Homo sapiens: one gene and its partners. The protein of the gene in region 3 interacts with the protein of the main gene of each other region in a pairwise test. Each region holds a gene or a part of one and is shown on either strand. Other genes may lie near its edges.

Region 1 (4,898 bases), on a different chromosome or scaffold from region 3:
TTTTTTTTTTTTTTTTTTAAGACTGTCTCACTCTGTATCCCAGGCTGGAGTGCAGTGGTGCAACTTGGCTCACTGCAGCTTCTGCCACCTGGGTTCAAGAGATTCTTATGCTTCAGCCTCCTGAGTAGCTGGGATTACAGGTGCGTGCCACCATGCCAGGCTAATTTTTGTATTTTTATTAGAGATGGGGTTTCACCATGTTGGCCAGGCTGGTCTCCAACTCCTGGCCTCAAGATCCGCCCGCCTCAGCCTCCCAAAGTGCTGGGATTACAGTCATGAGCCACTGTGTCTGGCGGATCTTTTGTTTAAAAGTATGAATTGCAGAATTTTAACCAGTGTTAGTACATTTCAACTTGGCTTTGGTTTGTAAATAATCCTTCAAAAGTAGATTACTTGAATTAAGGCATTAAAGACAAAGAATTGATACAGTACATAGATCTAGTTTTCTAATATTAATTTGGAAAACTTTTATCCTAATATTATCCTAATAACAATGCCTGAAATGTCATGTTGTAATGTTTGTATTATATTGAAAGTTAAAAACATTTATAGCAATGTTCTTGGAGCATCAGGCAATTCAAAGAGGACATAGGTCCTGCCTTAATCTTACAAATAATGACCTGCAAATAAGACAGAAACACAACTTGAATAAAAAAGCCTTTGAGAGGCCAGGCCCGGTGGCTCACGCCTGTAATGCTAGCACTTTGGGAGGCTGAGGTGGGCAGATCATGAGGTCAGAAGTTCAAGACCCGCCTGGCCAACATGGTGAAACCCCGTCTCTACTAAAAATACAAAAAAATTAGCTGGGCGTGGCAGTGTGTGCCTGTAATCCCAGCTACTTGGGAGGCTGAGGCAGGAGAATCGCATGAACCCAGGAGACAGAGATTGCAACGAGCCAAGATCATGCCATTGCACTCCAGCCTGGGCGATAGAGCAAGACTCAGTCTCAAAAAACACCAAAAAAACAAAAAGCCTCTGAGAAATATACAATTTTTAGTGAAGGTGGCTGGGTACAAGGAGATTAGTAGAAGTGCTTGACTGGAGCAGTTGTGGCCAAAGTATAGCTTCCTTGTGATGAGACACAGGAAGAGATGTCTAGACTCATGTTGTGTGCATATTTCATGGCAGTATGTGGGAAACCCCTGAGAGATTTTAGATCTTTCTTCCCACCTTGGTCCCCATCCCTCACATATCCTCACAAAGTCATAAAATTCTCATGTGGAAGGCGTGATAGAAGGAATTTTTCTTCCTGAAAAGTGTTATCAAGCTTGCAAGGGAGAGAGCTATTTTCGGAGACCTTATAGGGAAGAAATCCTAGTCCTAGAGCATCATATTCTTATACCCTGTTATTTTTACCTTTGTCGAAGATCCAGATAATGTAAATTCTCCATGATAGCAAGGACCTTGTCTGTTTTGCTCACCATTGAATCTCCAAATGTTCAATAGTTAATGAATGAAAAAAGTCTACTTCCAGATATATGACTGGAGAACAAAAGGAGTATCTGATAATGTAGTCCAAACTAAATGCAAGCAGCGAAATGATAAAGGAAGGATGTTAGCTTGGGAGAAGGGGAACAGGTCATTTAATCTGGGAAACTTTCTTGGAGGAGGTGATTCTTGAGTTAGGTTTTGGTGTGGGCTGTGTGTCTGAAGATAAGCAGTGTCTAAGGGGGTAGACAACGTGCAGCAAAGCATTTAAGTCAGACTGAATAAATTATGTCAGATAAAGCACAGTAAGTCTTTTTTTGTAACATTATGAAGAATTTTTATTCTCCCATCTCTATTTTCACCTCTCCCTAAATAAAAAGATTAACTTGCTTTGCAACAGCAGAGATTGACAGTACTTGAGTTTTGGAAGTACGATAAGGGTCAGAAAATTTGAATTGGTGTTCTGACTGAATCTTATACAAGCGTCGTTTCCATCGGCCAATCACTTGGTCTTAGTTTTCTCATTTGTAAAATCAGGATAATAATCCATGATCGTTGGGAGAACAAAGTTATATAATGCATGTGAAAGTGCATACCTCAATATGAATGTGCCTACCTCAATGTGTCACACATAGGAGGACTTCAGCAAATACAAAATTATTAAAACGTTTGTCTGCAGATCTTTAAAACATATTTTGATTCGTTTATCATGAACTCTAATATTTGCTTGACTCATCTAGATGACTCATGGCATTATGTTTAAATTGATCAGAATCAAAATTCTAGATAATTTTCTTTCAGTCAGTTTAATGTTTTCTGGTAGAAATGAGGCCTAATTGTATTACTGCTTAATGTTACAGACCACAAGGAGTGCTAGAAGCCTCAAATTTTTGAAGCTCAAAGTAAGGGATATGTGTAGCTGAAAATCTGAGCCTTTAAGCTTTTTTTCTCTACGTAATTTGTTTTTGAAGAAATTGTCTTTGCCTGTAATGTCATTTATCTATTCATTGTTGTGATGAAATAAGGGGTTTTCTGGTTGTTAAGAAAAAATTTACCAAAAATATTTTCTGTTTTTAGTGATGTGACTATAAGCCATGAAGATCTCTACCATCTGTGTTTTATTATAAAATTCAGTATTTCTTGAGCAAACAAACAGACATCTGCATTATTTCTTATCTAAGCTTTTTGTGCCAGTAGCTGTTCATTTATGAATCTCAGAATTTCATTATACTTTGTGAACTCTTTGTAGTGTTTTTGATCCATGGAGCAGTCTGTCCTTTGTATAATATTTGGAAGAGAATTTTATTATAAAAAGACTAAGAAGAGTCTTGAGCCTTTTTATTATACAAAGACTAAGAAGAGTCATCAAATGATAAGCCAGTTACCTACTAATTTCCATATTCAAAAAGGACTGAAAAAAAGAGGAAATGGTTTCAGAGCTTGACTTTTTTCAAATAAAAAGGAGAAGCTTTTTGATTTAGAGTTTTTGAAAACTTGATAGATTCAGAGGGAAATTGTTATAGGTCATATTAATAGCTAATGTGCGTCAACTGCTATATACCAGGTACTGTACTACTCTAGAAGTACTTGACATGTCATCACATTTGATCCTGACAACCACCCCGCAATCAGGCTATTTTCTTTTTTTTAAACCTGAGCAACTGACAGATTAAATAAGTGGTGGAGCCAGGATTTGAACTAAACCTGAGGCACAGAGAAGTTAAGTAGTAGGTGGTAGAGCCTACTAAAAGGATTTAAACTTGAGGTTTAACCTGACCTTTGACTTTGGAGCCTATCCTTTTAACCATCATATTATATACTGCCTTGTATAATTTATTTGCAGTTGCTCCTCTTGATACGTCTTGACCTTGTGATCTTCCTGAGTCTGTTTTAGTTGTGTCATTTACAAAATGCACTTTACTTTATAAGAAGATGGAATATAGCCTTGATTTTTTTTCTCTCATTTTACTTGTATTTGACTGACATCCTATTTTTAAATCTTAAAAATACTTAGAGTAAAGCAAATATTTATTTTATTGTTCATCCAGTTGCCATTTTCTCACTGGGGAATTTCAGAGAATTTCGGAGTAACTGGAAATTAAAGAACATAATAGATAACAGTATTTAAAGCTAAGTTGTTATAATTAAAAAATAGTTTTAAAGAATAAGGCTGATTCACAGAATTGGTATGCATTTTTTTTTAGTGTTTTTTTTTTTTTTTTTTTGAGATAGAGTCTCACTGTGTCACCTAGGCTGGAGTGCAGTAGTGTGATCTTGGCTCACTGCAACCTCTGCCTCCCGGTTTCAAGTGATTCTCATGCCTGAGCCTCCTGAGTAGCTGGGATTACGGGTGCATGCCACCATGCCCAGCTAATTTTTTGTATTTTTAGTAGAGATGGGGTTTCACCATATTGGCCAGGCTGTTCTCGAACTCCTGACGTAAAGTGATCCACCTGCCTCGTCCTCCCAAAGTGTTGAGATTACAGGCGTGAGCTACCTCCTCTGGCCTTTTTTTTTTTTCTTCTGATACAGGGTCTTGAGCTGTCACCTAGGCTGGAGTGCAGTGGCACTCACTACCATGGCTCACTGCAGCCTCGACCTCCCAGGCTCAAGTGATCCTCCTGTCTCTGCCTCCCAAGTAGCTGGGACTACAGGCGAATACCATCACACCTGGCTAATTTTTAAGTTTTTTTTTTTTTTTTTAGAAACAGAGTCTCACTATGTTGCCCAGCTTGGTCTTGAACCCCTAGCCTCAAATGATTCTCCCACCTTGGTCTCCCAAAGTGCTGGGATTATAGATGTGAGCTGCCATGCCAGGCCTATTTAGTGATATTTGAGGGACACAGATCTGTACAGTTGAAATCTGTCCTGTTGAGATGACCACCAGTAAGGTAATTTTTGCTTTTTGGCTGCCAAATGCCTACATATTAGCAGGAATAGTTTGTCAGATTACATAATTTTTTACAAGGAAGGCTGGGGCCCATGTGGAAATTATGGAATCTATGTTGGTATATTTTGATGGGATGGAAGTATGGTAGATCTGGAGAGAGAGAAGTTCAATCTAAGTAACATTATTACCGGGTAGAGTAATGAGGTGGGGTGCTTTGGATGTGAGGGCACAGGTACATTGTTCAAGTGGAGAGTAGGATGAGGGACTTCTGGAGACTAGCTTTGCTTAGTGTGTAATTTTGTGCATTGTTATGATTATAATAACTTGTAAGATCAGCAATTTGGAAGTAAAGAAAAGCAGTGCTGTGCATCATAGTGTGGAGTTTGTAATAGTTCTAGGCTGTTTTGCAAGATGTAGGTGCTTTACAAATATCCATTGGTAGTAATGGAAGTGCTCTGTCTTATCACCTATTTTAGAAATCTGGAGAGGCAGAATAGCACGAACCCTGGAGCCAGACTGCCAAAGTTCAGAACTGGTACAGCCACTTACTAGCCTATTGCACTGGCCCTATGCTGACTTG
Region 2 (4,898 bases), on a different chromosome or scaffold from region 3:
TGATTGTGAAGCTTCCCTAGTCATGAAACTTTAAGTAATTAAACTCTTTCTTTTGCAAATTGCCCAGTCTTGGGTATGTCTTTATCAGCAACTTGAAAATGGACTAATACACTGTGTCTACCTCAGTGCCTGACACGTATTAGATATGTGATGAAAATTCATTAAATGCATCACCTAATGTCTTGCTCCTTCTCTTGTAGACTCTAGGTTACTTGCAGGGGAATGGGCACATCTCTTTCATCCCTTTCATTCCTGTATCACCTGCAGCATCTAGCTCTACATCTTGCTAATAGCAAAAACTCATTTTCTGCCTTGTAGAATGAACTACTACGAAGGCCTTGAGAGTCATCCCCTCATCTGATGTGAAGCCGAGGGTATCCCAGCTAACACTCATTATACTAGAACAACTTCCCCCTCCTCCTACAGCTTCAGGGAGTTCATGGAACCACTTGAAGCTCCTCCAGTATCCCCACTCTCTGAGCTCATTGAAGAGCTCTTAGAGGTGAAAAGTCAGCAGAGAGACCATTGTCAGTGCCACTCTGTCAAGAGCCCGTTTTTCAGCATCTCACTAACTCTGACATTTCCCATCTCATTCTCTTTCTTCTTGCCAAGAGCCACTGCTTCTTTATGGTCACTGTGTTCTCTCTGTTACCTCCTTTAAAGCTTTCTTGACTCTGCTCCTCTCCTTTGCTCTCTTCTCTGTGTTTAGCTTTGAAGCCCCAACTGCTCACATGCAGTCCTAGGATTTCTCTCCCCACCTGCAGCAATGCCCCTTTTCCCTAAGAGTTCCTGCCCTGCCCGTAGCCCCTGGAGGCTGTTCTGGAGCTGTTCTGGGCTGTCCTAGCTGAGGTGCTGGAATCCCTCTGCTCTTCCTTTTTCTTCCCCTGGCACAGTGCCACTTGCCATCTTTCTGGGCATCTTCCTCTTGCTGTCAAAAAAAAAATACCGACAGAGAACTACTTAGGTGAAGGCTGAGAGGCTGACATAAAAAAAATATTATTAGTTGGCCTGAGAGAGTGTAATAAAGGGAGTTTTATGAGGTATGACAGCTTTCTAAAGTTAACAAACCATCTGGCATTATGTCAAACAGACAAAGAGCTTGCCAGGAGCTGGCACTGGTGCCCAGCCCCATTTGGGCATGGTGGGATTGACCTTCCCCTCCTTACCTGGAGGCCACATTTGCTGTTTCTCCACAGTGAAAACAGTAAATGGGAATTCTTTGGTAGTGCAGAGTCTGAGTCTGTTCCCTCTGCCCAGCGTCTCTGTTTAGAACATACTGCAGGAGTGTCCACTGTACCAAGAAGGGTAGAAAGGGTCAAAAGAAAGCACGAGCCTGGCTTTGAGCAGCCTGCTTTGGTAATGTATCCCAAGGCCACAGTACAAAAGTCAAGAATACGTTGGACAGAAGACACCTTAATTGGAAACCTCCTTTGACTTAGTGTGAGAGGACAAGACACAATCCCAGTGTGGATGTTTTGCTCATCAAACAGGGCCCAGCACACACACCAGCCAGGTGCCCTCTTCCATGCAGTCAGCACCACTGCTAGTTTGGGGTCTTGACTAGAGGTCCACCTTTGGCCCACAGTTGCCCTGGGTAGGCCTGACAGACTCAGGGATGGTCTCTGTTGGCCTCTCCTAGGTACGCTCCACCTGCCCCCGGTTTAAGGGAGCATGACCGATGTGGCCGCATTTCAGGAGCACTAGGATATAATCTAACCTGGAGGCCAATTGTAAACAAGGGTTATTTAAGTAGCTTCACCAAGTATCATACTACCTGGTTATATTATCTTCTCACAGGCTGGTGTGAATCTCTGAGGCAGCCATATAAGTAAATAATAGGCTAGCAATGATAGCAGTTAACCTCTATTGAACTCCTGTTATGTGGCAGGCACTAGGGGAAGAACTTGGCACAGGTAGCCTGCCTGCCCACAGCAACCCTAGGTAGTAAATATTGGTATTCCCATTTTGCAGATGAGGAAATTGAGTCTAAAGAGTTTAAGAAAGTTGTCCAAGTCACATAGCTCGTAAGTGACAGGGCTAGGATTTGAACTCAAGGTGGTCTAAATCTAAAATACCTCCTTATCTGAGGCAAGAGGATTGCTTGAAGCCAGAAGTTTGAGACCAGCCTGGGCAACAAAGCAAAGCCCTGTCTCTACAAAAAATTTTAAAAATTAGCTGGGCATGGTAATGCATGCCTGCATTCCTAACTACTATGAGCTCACCACTGCACTCCAGCCTGAGTGACAGAGCAAGACACCATTTCTAAAATAAAATAATAAATACAAATAAAATACAATATAAATAAAATAATAAAACCTGCTTTTTACCCACCTATGAAGCCTGTGAATGTAGTACAAATGCCACACCCTTGAGCAGCTGTGGAATTCTGGGTTACAGGGAGATAGTTAGATGTAAGAATTTATGGTGTGAAGTGCTAGCTCTGTTACCCTAAAGGATAATGCAAACAATGAATGCTTGCTTCCCATTTCAGTTTCTTCATTTATAAAATAGGCACATGCAGCCAGGCGCAGTGACTCACACCTGTAATCCCAGCACTTTGGCAGGCTGAGGTGGGTGGATCACGAGGTCAGGAGTTCAAGACCAGCCTGGCCAAGATGGTGAAATCCTGTCTCTACTAAAAATACAAAAATTAGCTGGTCGTGGTGGCAGATGCCTGTAATGGTGAAACCCTGTCTCTACTAAAAATACAAAAATTAGCTGGGCATGGTGGCAGGTGCCTGTAATCCCAGCTACTTGGGAGGCTGAGGTGGGGAACGGCTTGAACCCAGAGGCGGAGGTTGCAGTGAGCCAAGATCATGCCACTGCACTCCAGCCTGGGCAACAGTGTGAGACTGTCAAAAAAAAAAAAAAAAAAAAAAGCACGGGCAAAAAACATACCCCTAATATTTTTAAAACAAATATTTTCACTGAAGCTGCCTCTCACTGCCACCACTGCCATTGCTACCTACAGATGTTCCTGAGCAGTTGGAAGTTCTTTGTCTCATCTGATATATATATATATATTTTCAAAGACCCAAAATACTTTAGTGATGGAAACAGTAATCTGTGACTAAAGATATTTGTTCAATCTGAATTTTTTGTTTGTGTGTTTGTTTGCAGAGAATGGCAAATCGGTTCATTGGAAACTTGGAGCTGATAAGGAAGTCTGGGTATGGGTGATGGGCGAACACCATCTAGATAAACCCTATGATGTGCTCTGTAATGAAATTATTGCTGAGAGGGCCCGGCTGAAAGCAGAACAGGAGGCAGAAGAGCCCAGGTATGAGATCTGCAAACCAACCAGAGACTTAAAGACTCTCCAGACTTTAGAAAACATTGCAAACACACCTCTTGCTCACAGTATCAGGTGGGAGAGTAGGGTTGGGTTGGAGGGTCACAAAAGTCACTTTGGATCTCTTTGGAAGGTTGATTTAGACTTTTGGTCTAAAGACCTTTTGGATCTCTTTAGAAGGTTGATTTAGACTTTTGATCTAAAGTCTTTGATAGCACTAAAGACCTCATGAAAATCTTTAGTGCTGTCAAATCAGCTGCTTCATCTCCCTGCTTGTCATTCCAGTTTTGATCTGTATGAGTGTATGAGTTCCCCAGTGATCACCCGTGGCTGCACTAGAGTCATGTTAGAGCAATGCAGGCCGACGCAGCTGAGTATCAGGAACATATGTGAGAAATGCAGTGACTGTGCAAGCTTCAGGCCTTCCAAGGAGATCACTTAGATACAGGCGGCTGGATAATCAGGCTCTTTAGGTGCCTACCCAGTGCAAGGTACTGGGAATTCAAAGAGAAACAGGGAGCTTCCAGTCTAGGAGGAGAAGTAGACATATGCACAGCTCACTGCGGCCAGTGCAGGCTGTGATTTGTGCTATAATTAAGGTACAAACAGAAAGTTTACCAAGCATAGGTGGGAACCTATCATTCTGATCCACAGACGAGGTGAAATCTGAACCAAACCTTGAAAGGAGTGGTTTTCCAGCTACAGAAGGCCAGGAAGGAAAGTGCAGGCAGAGGGCTTAACCAAGATCCCTAGACTTGACTACGGATGGTTCTTTGGGGAATGATGAGGTCTTCTGAGCATTTGGAATACACTTGGACAACTGCTTCAGAGGCCAGATTTAGGAGTTTGGAACTTATTCTCTGGACGGTGAGGTTTTTCAATAGGGAAGTGACATCAACTGCAGATGTAGGAAGGTAACTCGGAGGGAAACTGAGGCAGGTGATGGCGCTCCTCTGCTGGGTACCTGGGGTGCTCTGGGTGTCCTCCTCTGGCTCTGGGCAGTGATGTTGACAGCCTTACCCTGAGGTGGTGAAGTGGAAATTGGGACAGACATGAGGACCACCGTTCAGTTCCCAAGGGCTAGGGATGCAAAGCAGACTCTGTGGCACAGTGGATGGTGCATTGGACTTTCAAGGGCTGGGATGCTGCCCACTAGTGCCTGTAACTTTAAAACTATCCATGGACATATGAAGATAAAGGAATTATTTAATCATCGATTGGAAGCAGACGGTGTGGTTCTAATAGGTTAACTTCTAAACCAGGAGTTGAGCAGACCAGGGTTCAGATCTTGGCTGTACCACTATGTGGTCTTGGATGAATTACAAAATTTCTTGGAGCTCTTATAACAAAGTGAGGATGACAATGCCTTCCTCACAGGGTTGTGATGAGGATGAAGTTAACGTCTTTACACACCTAGCAAAGGGCCCAGCATGTTAGAAGCACTCAGTAAGTGGTGTCAGTTACTGTTTTTCACATAATTTGAATGTCGACATATGCTTTGGAAAGGCTCTTCCTGTTGAAGAATGTTTTTTGAGAATTTCACTTTTGCCTCTCTTCAGAAAAACTCACTCTGAAGAATTCACCAATAGCTTGAAAACAAAATCAC
Region 3 (4,898 bases):
AATAAACTTCAGCATCTTAAGGAGAGCCATGAGATGGGACAGGCCCTACAGCAGGCCAGAAATGTCATGGTAAGTGATGATTGACCTTACACCACCACTGGGTCTCCTGTGAAGATGAAGAATGGAGAATCCTGGGTGGTTAGTAGATGGTGATACTAAGTCGTGGTGGTGAAGGGAGGTTTCCAAACATTTGTAAAGTACATCTCCTTATGCGGAGCTTGGAATTGGGGTTAGCGGTTTTCCTCCCCAGTGCCCCTGTTTCCTGCTTAGTGACTTTATTTGATCTCACCTACCCATTTTTTTCTCTACAGCAATCATGGGTGCTTATCTCTAAAGAGCTGATATCCTTGCTTCACCTATCCCTGTTGCATTTAGAAGAAGATAAGACTACTGTGAGTCAGGAGGTAAGCAGCCTGAAGATGGAGGTGGAGGCCTGTGGTGGGACTAAAAGCCATAAAGAGGAACCAGACACATTAACTGATTCTTACCATATAGTCTCGGCGTGCAGAAACATTGGTCTGTTGCTGTTTTGATTTGCTGAAGAAATTGAGGGCAAAGCTCCAGAGCCTCAAAGCAGAAAGGGAGGAGGCAAGGCACAGAGAGGAAATGGCTCTCAGAGGCAAGGATGCGGTAAGGTGACAGGCATTTGTTCTTGGATGTGGGAGGTTTCCACCTCAAGGTTCCTGCAGGAACACAAATGCACTTTAGACACAGATGGGTGGCCTAAGAACTGCCTGCCCTGGGCAGTAAAGAACTGATCTATTGAGGTGTCATGGTTACATCTTTTTGTGCTGGCTCCCCTGTTGCCCACTGTGGCCTTGCAACCACTTCCCTCAATAGGCAGAGATAGTGTTGGAGGCTTTCTGTGCACACGCCAGCCAGCGCATCAGCCAGCTGGAACAGGACCTAGCATCCATGCGGGAATTCAGAGGCCTTCTGAAGGATGCCCAGACCCAACTGGTAATTTAAGGGCATTTTCTTTCCTGGGGTCTGTGCTGACAGACTGGGAGGGTAGTTGCATACTCCCACTTTGCTGTATCCAAAGGGAAGGGGTTCCCGCCTAGGCAATCTTTCTTTTGTAGGTAGGGCTTCATGCCAAGCAAGAAGAGCTGGTTCAGCAGACAGTGAGTCTTACTTCTACCTTGCAACAAGACTGGAGGTCCATGCAACTGGATGTGAGTATTTGGGACCATCATAACTAATTCCTTACTCACATCAAGTCCTGTTGTGAGCTTTGCCTCAAGTGTGCTCTACTGACCTGCTTGCTTCCCCTGGTAGTATACAACATGGACAGCTTTGCTGAGTCGGTCCCGACAACTCACAGAGAAACTCACAGTCAAGAGCCAGCAAGCCCTGCAGGAACGTGATGTGGCAATTGAGGAAAAGCAGGAGGTACAAACCAAGAGTGGGGACTGCTTAGGCTTGGTTTCCTTCCTAATGTGTGATACCATTAGCCTCTTACCCTGGATCTGTTTTCTTTTCACCCTGTGGGTTTGGAGGCCAGCCAGTAAGGTCTCTTAGCTGTAAGATGGCCTTAAGCGCAGTTTTTTCCTTTGCCCTTCAGCATCTTTACTTCAGCAACTTTTCTCCTGTCTCTACTTTTTCCTGAGGATCAACCTTATTTTCTGCAATGTTGATGCCCAGGAGCAAGGTAGTTTTCTGTCTTGTCCAGAAAGAGAAGCTGGACCAAGTCCTGGGATTATTGATTCAGGAGGAACTATAGGAGGAAAACCATCTGTTCTTCCTAGGTTTCTAGGGTGCTGGAACAAGTCTCTGCCCAGTTAGAGGAGTGCAAAGGCCAAACAGAACAACTGGAGTTGGAAAACAGTCGTCTAGCAACAGGTGTTTGTGTGTGTGTGTGTGTATGCATGCATGTAAGCATTTGAGCCCTGTTAAGGCTTGGAGTGTGGCACTAGAGCAAGGAAGTACTCAGGAGCACTTGCTTTGGAGCAGAAGTTTGGGGAGTTTCTAGCCTGCTGACCGCATGGTGTCATTAGGATACTTTTGTTCTAGATCTCCGGGCTCAGTTGCAGATTCTGGCCAACATGGACAGCCAGCTAAAAGAGCTACAGAGTCAGCATACCCATTGTGCCCAGGACCTGGCTATGAAGGATGAGTTACTCTGCCAGCTTACCCAGAGCAATGAGGAGCAGGCTGCTCAGTGAGTTCCTAACGGGGTACTGTGGCAGTAGGCATCCAGGATTTAGGACCAAATGGGATCTAATATGTTGTCTCTGGCAGATGGCAAAAGGAAGAGATGGCACTAAAACACATGCAGGCAGAACTGCAGCAGCAACAAGCTGTCCTGGCCAAAGAGGTGCGGGACCTGAAAGAGACCTTGGAGGTAAGGAATATGGCTTGGGCCAAGGGAGCTGGTAAGCCTCAGGAGTGTGATTCTTGCCTGATAGTGTTGAGGTAAGGTTTGAGACTGTGAACTAGAAAAAGCCTCTGTACCCAGGGCACTAAAATTCTCCCTCCCTGTCTTGCTCCTTCTCTTGTCTTCCCAGTTTGCAGACCAGGAGAATCAGGTTGCTCACCTGGAGCTGGGTCAGGTTGAGTGTCAATTGAAAACCACACTGGAAGTGCTCCGGGAGCGCAGCTTGCAGTGTGAGAACCTCAAGGACACTGTAGAGAACCTAACGTAAGTTCTCTAACTTTCTGTACTTCCCCCTAAGTGCTTATTTTTTTCTCAGGAACACTTCTAGAAGCCAAAATCTCCAAGAAGAGAACTGTGAGTGTTGAGCCTCTTGTTTCTCTCCTTTAATGCAGCTCTGTGGGGATTTGGGATAGGCGTTCAGAGAAGGTAATTTGGTCTTTGGTCATCTTCCCTGTTCCTTATTTCAGGGCTAAACTGGCCAGCACCATAGCAGATAACCAGGAGCAAGATCTGGAGAAAACACGGCAGTACTCTCAAAAGCTAGGGCTGCTGACTGAGCAACTACAGAGCCTGACTCTCTTTCTACAGACAAAACTAAAGGAGAAGGTAGGATCCTGGGGTTCCTTCTCTTCTCTTCCAATTGTATCTTTATTTTACAGATAGTCTTCCTAAAACATTACTCTTTTTCTAACTGTGACCTTTTATGATTTCAGTTACCTACAGGACCTCATTAGCCTGTTGCTCAAACCTTTCTTCCCCTGTCTCCTATCTCCCTATTATGAACACTTTGCCCCAGCTAGACTGCCTGTATGCTACACACATGTCCCCATTTTTATCCCCAGAACCCAGACTCTGGCTGTTCCCACATTCATTCTATTCTTTCTTCAAACTGGAAATGCCTTTTCTATTAAAATCCTCCCTTCCGACCTGGGCAACGTGGTGAAAACCATCTCTACAAAAAAATACAGAAATTAGCCCAGGTGTAGTGTTGTGAACCTGTAGTCCCAGCTATCTGGGAGGCTGAGGTGAGAGGATCACCTGAGCCTGGGAAGTTGAGGCTGCAGTGAGCCATGATCATACCTGGCTAATTTTTTTGTATCACTGCACTCCAAACTGGGTGAGAGTGAAACCCTTTCCCCCACAAAAAAAGAAATCTTCCCTGGTTTACCTTCTTTGAACTGTTCCCAAATCAAATCATGTGGACCCGGTGATCTTTTCTTCTGCCATATTTCTCATGAACTTACTCTTCTTTTGTATTTGTATTAATTTTCCTTGGATACCTGGTCTCTTCAACCAGACTATGTTTCAAGAAAGCAGAAATATAGCCTTCTTTGGCCTCCCTGCAGTGTGCACTAAACAATAAATGGTTGACATCATTCAGAATACAAAGGTAATTAGCTTATTCAGCAGATAAGGCACAACAAATATCCTAAAATCTGGCAATTGCTTATGACCTGATCCTCTTCCCCAACTGGGTACCGAGCACAGGAAATGCCATCAAATCTACAGTTTAGCATGGAAGACAAACAGATGTAAACTTGTCATCTTGACTTATGATCATGGTAGAGGTCTGCATGGACCACTGTGAGAGATAGAGAGGGGAGCACCACTTCAGCCTTCGAGAATTAGGATGCCTTCTCAAAGCAGCTGACCTTGGGTACAGTCTTGAGGTTTAGACGTTTGTGGGGCAGGGGAGGGTATTTAGGAAGTCCCACTAGGCAGAGGGAACGGTGTATGAAAGTTTCATCTGACTACATATGAGAGTCGTACGTAGAAAGTCATGCACATAGTACATGATGTGTTCTTTTTTATAGTGTCTACCTTATAAAACCTGGGTTAGGTGCTGGGACTAGAGGATGAACAAGGCAAGATGCTGCTCATATGGAATGCAGCAAGTCTGAGGAATGGGAAGCAGCTCTTCATGGCTGCAGCGTGAGAGCTCTGTGGGGCAAGGCAGGAGACAACACTGGAGAAGTAGGCAGGAGGCCAGATTTTGAAGGCTTGAAATAATGGCAGTTTTATAGGCAGTAGAAAGGAGAGGATGGAGTGAATGGATTCAATAGATATTTAGGAAGCAGAGGCAGTAGAACCAATTTGATGTAAGAGTGACCAATTTGATGTGAGAGTAAGTTAGAAGAGTGAATGATGATCCTTAGATTGCTAGGAAAGAGGGCCCAGCGGGTCAGCTGTGTTAGTGTGTGGAGACTAGGGCTAGTGACACCTCCGGGTCAGCTCTGTGCCCAGGAAGCACTTCAACCTGTGTGGCAGGAGGGATAGCAATAGGAAGCACTTCAATTCCCCACAACTCAGACACCCAGACGGGAGGGCAGAGGACCAAGGCTGAAAGGAGTAGAGAGCCTGAGAGAGAGATGAGACTGAGGGGAGCTAGTGGTGACTCAGGCTAACCAGTCAGCGGGAGAGACCTAGACCGGGGGGCAGAGAAGGCGGGAGAACTGGAGAGAGGACCTAGCCTAGGAGGAGAGGGAGCAGGCTGAGAAGGAAATGCTCTGGGTAGGAGAGA
Region 4 (4,898 bases), on a different chromosome or scaffold from region 3:
ATTTTTCTCTGTTTATCTTTTATAGGTATAGGGCATGGTAAAACAATCTGTTTTAAGCTGATAACATCTTACGTTCAATCACATATAAGAGCTCATTTTTGTTCTGTTGAATTTTTTTTTTTTTTTGAGACAGGGTCTCACTCTGTTGCCCAGGCTGGAGTGTGGTGGTGTAGTGTGATCATAGTTCACTACAGCCTCAAACTCCTGAGCTCCAGTAATCCTCCTGCCTCAGCCTCCCAAATAGCTGGGACTTGTAAAATTGGCCAGTTGTGGTGGTGCATGCTGTTTGCTCACAAGTAGCACATGCCACCCTGTCTCTTTTGCAGAGACAGGGTCTCACTGTGTTGCCCAGACTGATCTCAAACTCCTGGACTCAAGCGATCCTCTCATCTCAGCCTCCCAAAGCACTGGGATTACAGGAGTGAGCCACCGCACCTACCCTCCCGTGCCGCCTAATAGGTAGAATAATTTCTCTTATTTTCCTGAGGATATTAGTTATGGTTTGTTGAAGTTTTTTCCTATTTCCTTTCTTTTCTTTATGTTTGTTGTGTTCTCTCTTTCACATTAGAGGAGTTCCTAAGATGCCTGATAATCCATGCCCAACTTTATAAGTAGGAACTAAAAAGCAGATTGGAATCTCTGAGCACACAAATGGCACTTGTTGACTTTGAGCTTCACTTTAAAGTGGTCTGGCTGGGTCATTTGTTAGAGAAATTCCTCATCCCAAGTCAGTATTTTTATATCTTTCCTCCTAGGACTTACCAGTTTTCCCAGAGAAGACTTCCAAAATCTTTCTTACGAGGGTACTACCAGCGTTCTAGGAGCCAAATGGCAGAAAAGGACTGGGAGGACCTCAACATTTAGTATTCTCTTAGTTTCCTTGCTTTCAGAAACAGTGTTCACATCTTCAGCCATGTATGGCATTCCCCATCTTCTGACAATGAGCCTCAAGTTTTCTACCAGGATTGGCAAGTTATCTTTTACCCCATAGCATATTGTGAGGGAGGGTATTTAAAAATCATATTGGCTTTTAGACAGCCTTCAACTGATTTGCCTTATTTTAACCCCATCCCTTCACATTTATTTCTGAAGGTAAGTGAAATTATCAGTTCCTGAACTATTTAAGGATTCTTAAGTGGTGACAGGTGTGTTCTTGGCTCTCTCCACTACCAGTTTAAAATTCAGCTTTCTTCAGTGTGCTGAGTTGGTTCCTGCTCATCCAATTATTTTTCATCTTCCAGATTATTATTGCTGTTGTCTCCTTTTCTTGTTCCTCCTGACCTTGTTGATTTGTGTTTTTTTTTTTTTTTTTTTAAGTGCCTATAGTTTTAGAGAGTTTTCTGGATGGAATGAAATTAAATGAATGTGTTCAATCCACCATTTTTATGTGAAACTAATTCTAATCATAATGAAAGAGTTTTCTTACGGCTGAGCATGGTGTCTCACGCCTGTAATCCCAGCATTTTGGGAGGCCAAGGCGGGTGGATCACCTGAGTTTGGGAGTTCAAGACCAGCCTGGACAACATGGTGAAACCCCACGTCTACTAAAAATACAAAAATTAGCCAGGTGTGGTGGCACATGACTGTAATCCCAGCTACTCGGGAGGCTGAGGCATGAGAATCACTTGAGCCTGGGAGGCCAAGGTTGCAGTGAGCAGAGATTGCGCCACTGCACTCCAGCCTGGGTGACAGAGTGAGACTTTGTCTCAAAAAGAAAAAAACAAAGAGTGCCTTACCTCCTTTATATGATATTTTGGTTGATCCTCAATTTGTTTTAGGTATTATACCTGAAGAACCTTAGCCCTCGGGTGACTGAAAGAGATCTTGTGTCATTGTTCGCTCGGTTCCAGGAGAAAAAAGGACCTCCAATTCAATTCCGAATGATGACTGGACGAATGAGGGGCCAGGCTTTTATCACCTTTCCCAGTAAGTAGTTTCATCCAGATGATTACTCAGTTGCCCCTCAGTTCGCTAGAGATTACCTATAACCTCTCTAATTTAGATATAGTCCTTTGATTTCTCCACAGCATGTGAGAACAAGACAATGAACGAAAAATATGTTTTCAGTGTTTCTTTCTGTTTCCTCTCCTCCATTGACAGTGCATGGCCACACTACCCCAGTGTCCTCAGTTTTTCCCAGTCTTGGTACTTCCTTCTTACCCTACCAAAATCTGTACTCCCTTCACTGACAATAGTATTTCTAGTCCAAGTTATAATTAGATTACTCATTAATTAATGTATTAGTATTCTGATCAGAACACATGTACTTGGCTTATGCGCTGTTCCTTTAGGACTAAGTGAGAGCAAGCTAATATACTAATTTATTACTAATTCATAATTAGTAGATGATGATACAGTCTTCTAAATATTATTTGCATATTAATTAATGCATAGCTTCTAATCCAACTGGAAGAATAATATGCAAATTTCAGTTTCTATGACAGACCAGATAATATGTTGTTTTGGGGGAAGGCTTTGTAGGATCTGTACCTTTCATTGTCCCTAAAGTATCGTCATTTCTAAATAGCCTATTAATCTATATGTGGGCAAGTGGTTTTACACATGAATACTGCCAAACTCCCCTCCATTGTTTTCATACAGTCTTGTATCATCTTTCCTATCATACTGAAGGTTTTTAAATCCGCTATACCAGTGGTTTTCAGTCTTTTCAAGTGTAAGAACCCCTTTTAAATTTAAAAAACCGTTTATGGGTGCCCCACATAATACGATGTATTAGTTGAAAAAATACATAATAAAAAGGCTTTTTAAAGCAAGTACTTTAAAATGTGTAGCTGTTTTACTAATCTTGAAAGCTATACACTTAAAAAAATTTGTAGTACTTATATATATGAAACAAAATTGGTTTAGTCTACTTGTCTACTTAGGATTCCACAAACTCCTGGCCACAAATCATCCCTTCCTTATTTCTTACATCCAGGCTCTTAGACCCATAAGTTGAATACTCCTGGCATGTAGTATATATTCTCACATTTCAACCTTCAATATGCCTACAAGTGTTCTTATACTTATTTATCCCAATAAGGTGGCCCAGAACCACTCTCCCACTGAAAAAAAAGTGGCAAAGTGCCCTTGATAACATGATAACTTCTTTTGTGTTACTCATTTTGAAAATGATTGATTCTAATAATACCTATAATCTGTTACCTAAGATAGAGACTTGTGTATAATTACTAATAGCTTAGACTTCTTTAGCACGCTGCCTATGTCTTTGTTTCTCTACTTGTTTCTTTGAATTAGGAGACACCCTCAAACACCGATTTTGAGTTTTTATTGTTATTATTTTTGCCATTAATTTAATTTTGCTTAATAATGCAAATGGGAGATTATAGAAAAAATGATCAAATCAAATGACTATATGGCCTTATAGCTTACATTTAACTCCAAGGCAAAATAATCTAAACTAAACCTGGAATAGAATTGAATTATTAAGTCCTATGTAAATTGAAATTTTTTCTTTCTCTTTTAGATAAGGAGATAGCATGGCAAGCATTGCATCTAGTAAATGGATACAAACTACATGGGAAAATATTGGTGATAGAGTTTGGAAAGAACAAAAAGCAACGGTCAAATCTCCAAGCGACTTCTCTCATATCATGTGCTACAGGTAGCACTACAGAAATTAGTGGTAGCTAGAATATATATAAATTGTGGGTCCTGGATGGTCTTTCTTGAATTGGAATCTTGGATCTAGGATTTATGTATAGACACCAGTTTGTTTGGAGTTGAAGAGGAAAAACTAACTGAGGGAGGGGAAAAAAGTAATTTCAGCTTTTGGAGAGAACTGGTAGAAAACATTTTCTATTATATAATTGAAGACTATATAGGACAGATGATATGCTGAGTATGAAGGGTAAAGTGCAAAGAGTATTATTTTCTCAGGATGAATTACAACGGATTATTCCTAAGGATTTTTAAAAATCTTTATAATTTTTCTGGGGTCCTCAATATTTGTCTCTAGAGATAACATTCTTTCTTAGACTGCTTCGTATACACAGAAATAAAAAACTAATTAAATGTTGAAATATTTCTTTACTAGAGCCCATTTGCCATATTTCATCCACCTAGTAAATAAAAGAGTAGGACCCCCAGGCCTAAGCATCAACAAATGCTATTAAGTCAGAACTATCAGCAGTAATAGTAGGTAGTTTCATAAGTCAGTTGACTTATTTAATGAATGCTTCCTCCACAAGTTATCAGTCTTCAAAAAGCTATATATTTTTCTAGTGAAATATTTTAGATCAAAATGTTGGTGTTCTCACAGCCATTTAAGCTAGCAACCATTGAGTATCATTGAATTCATAGCAATAAACATTGATTAAGTGTCTAATATATGTTAAATATTAGGCATATGAATTTTAGAAGAGGAACATACAAGCAAAGAATGCCAAACGGAAATGGAAATAAAGCGTTCTCTAGAAAAGAGGATGCCAGTCACAAATCCCCCAGTTGTTTGTTTATGGTTGCTGGAAAATAAAAAAACAATATACAGAGAGGAAGTAGTACAAACTGGAGTCAGACCTGTACAGCCACACTTAACATTCTATGACCTTGGCAAGTCACTTAATCTGAGCCTCACATTTTTCATCTATAAAGTGAGGATAATAATGCTACTTACCTCACTGGGTTGTGAAGATGAACTGAGATATTATCCAGGCTGAAGAACAGAAAGGAAAACAATGAATAAAATTGAACAAGAGTATAGAACCTGTGTGACACCATTAAGCATTCCTACATATTTCTAATGGGAGTACAGGAAAAAAGGAAAAGAAATGAAGGAGCAGAAAAATATTCTAAGAAATAATGGCTATAAATACCCCCGATTTGATGAGAGACATTAACCTATACATCCCAGAAGAAAAAGAAATTACAGACAGATA

What was found. The genes of interacting proteins can lie anywhere in the genome.
Region 1: the proteins of SPAG5 (region 3) and OSBPL8 interact in binary tests that used the Homo sapiens proteins (3 or more experiments, as listed by UniProt).
Region 2: the proteins of SPAG5 (region 3) and SH2D4A interact in binary tests that used the Homo sapiens proteins (3 or more experiments, as listed by UniProt).
Region 4: the proteins of SPAG5 (region 3) and RBM41 interact in binary tests that used the Homo sapiens proteins (3 or more experiments, as listed by UniProt).

Annotation. Positions count from the first base shown.
Region 1 is NC_000012.12:76,552,732-76,557,629, reverse strand, and holds part of OSBPL8 (oxysterol-binding protein-related protein 8), read left to right. Parts: intron 1-4,898. UniProt on the Homo sapiens protein: Lipid transporter involved in lipid countertransport between the endoplasmic reticulum and the plasma membrane: specifically exchanges phosphatidylserine with phosphatidylinositol 4-phosphate (PI4P), delivering phosphatidylserine to the plasma membrane in exchange for PI4P, which is degraded by the SAC1/SACM1L phosphatase in the endoplasmic reticulum.
Region 2 is NC_000008.11:19,329,835-19,334,732, forward strand, and holds part of SH2D4A (SH2 domain-containing protein 4A), read left to right. Parts: intron 1-3,120; coding exon 3,121-3,280; intron 3,281-4,851; coding exon 4,852-4,898. UniProt on the Homo sapiens protein: Inhibits estrogen-induced cell proliferation by competing with PLCG for binding to ESR1, blocking the effect of estrogen on PLCG and repressing estrogen-induced proliferation. May play a role in T-cell development and function.
Region 3 is NC_000017.11:28,581,596-28,586,493, reverse strand, and holds part of SPAG5 (sperm-associated antigen 5), read left to right. Parts: coding exon 1-69; intron 70-311; coding exon 312-404; intron 405-495; coding exon 496-630; intron 631-840; coding exon 841-960; intron 961-1,082; coding exon 1,083-1,175; intron 1,176-1,278; coding exon 1,279-1,392; intron 1,393-1,748; coding exon 1,749-1,842; intron 1,843-2,013; coding exon 2,014-2,161; intron 2,162-2,241; coding exon 2,242-2,344; intron 2,345-2,507; coding exon 2,508-2,641; intron 2,642-2,844; coding exon 2,845-2,983; intron 2,984-4,898. UniProt on the Homo sapiens protein: Essential component of the mitotic spindle required for normal chromosome segregation and progression into anaphase. Required for chromosome alignment, normal timing of sister chromatid segregation, and maintenance of spindle pole architecture.
Region 4 is NC_000023.11:107,066,283-107,071,180, reverse strand, and holds part of RBM41 (RNA-binding protein 41), read left to right. Parts: intron 1-755; coding exon of another isoform or gene 756-991; exon of another isoform or gene 992-1,778; coding exon 1,779-1,926; intron 1,927-3,487; coding exon 3,488-3,654; 3' UTR 3,655-4,365; coding exon of another isoform or gene 4,366-4,373; 3' UTR 4,374-4,898. UniProt on the Homo sapiens protein: May bind RNA.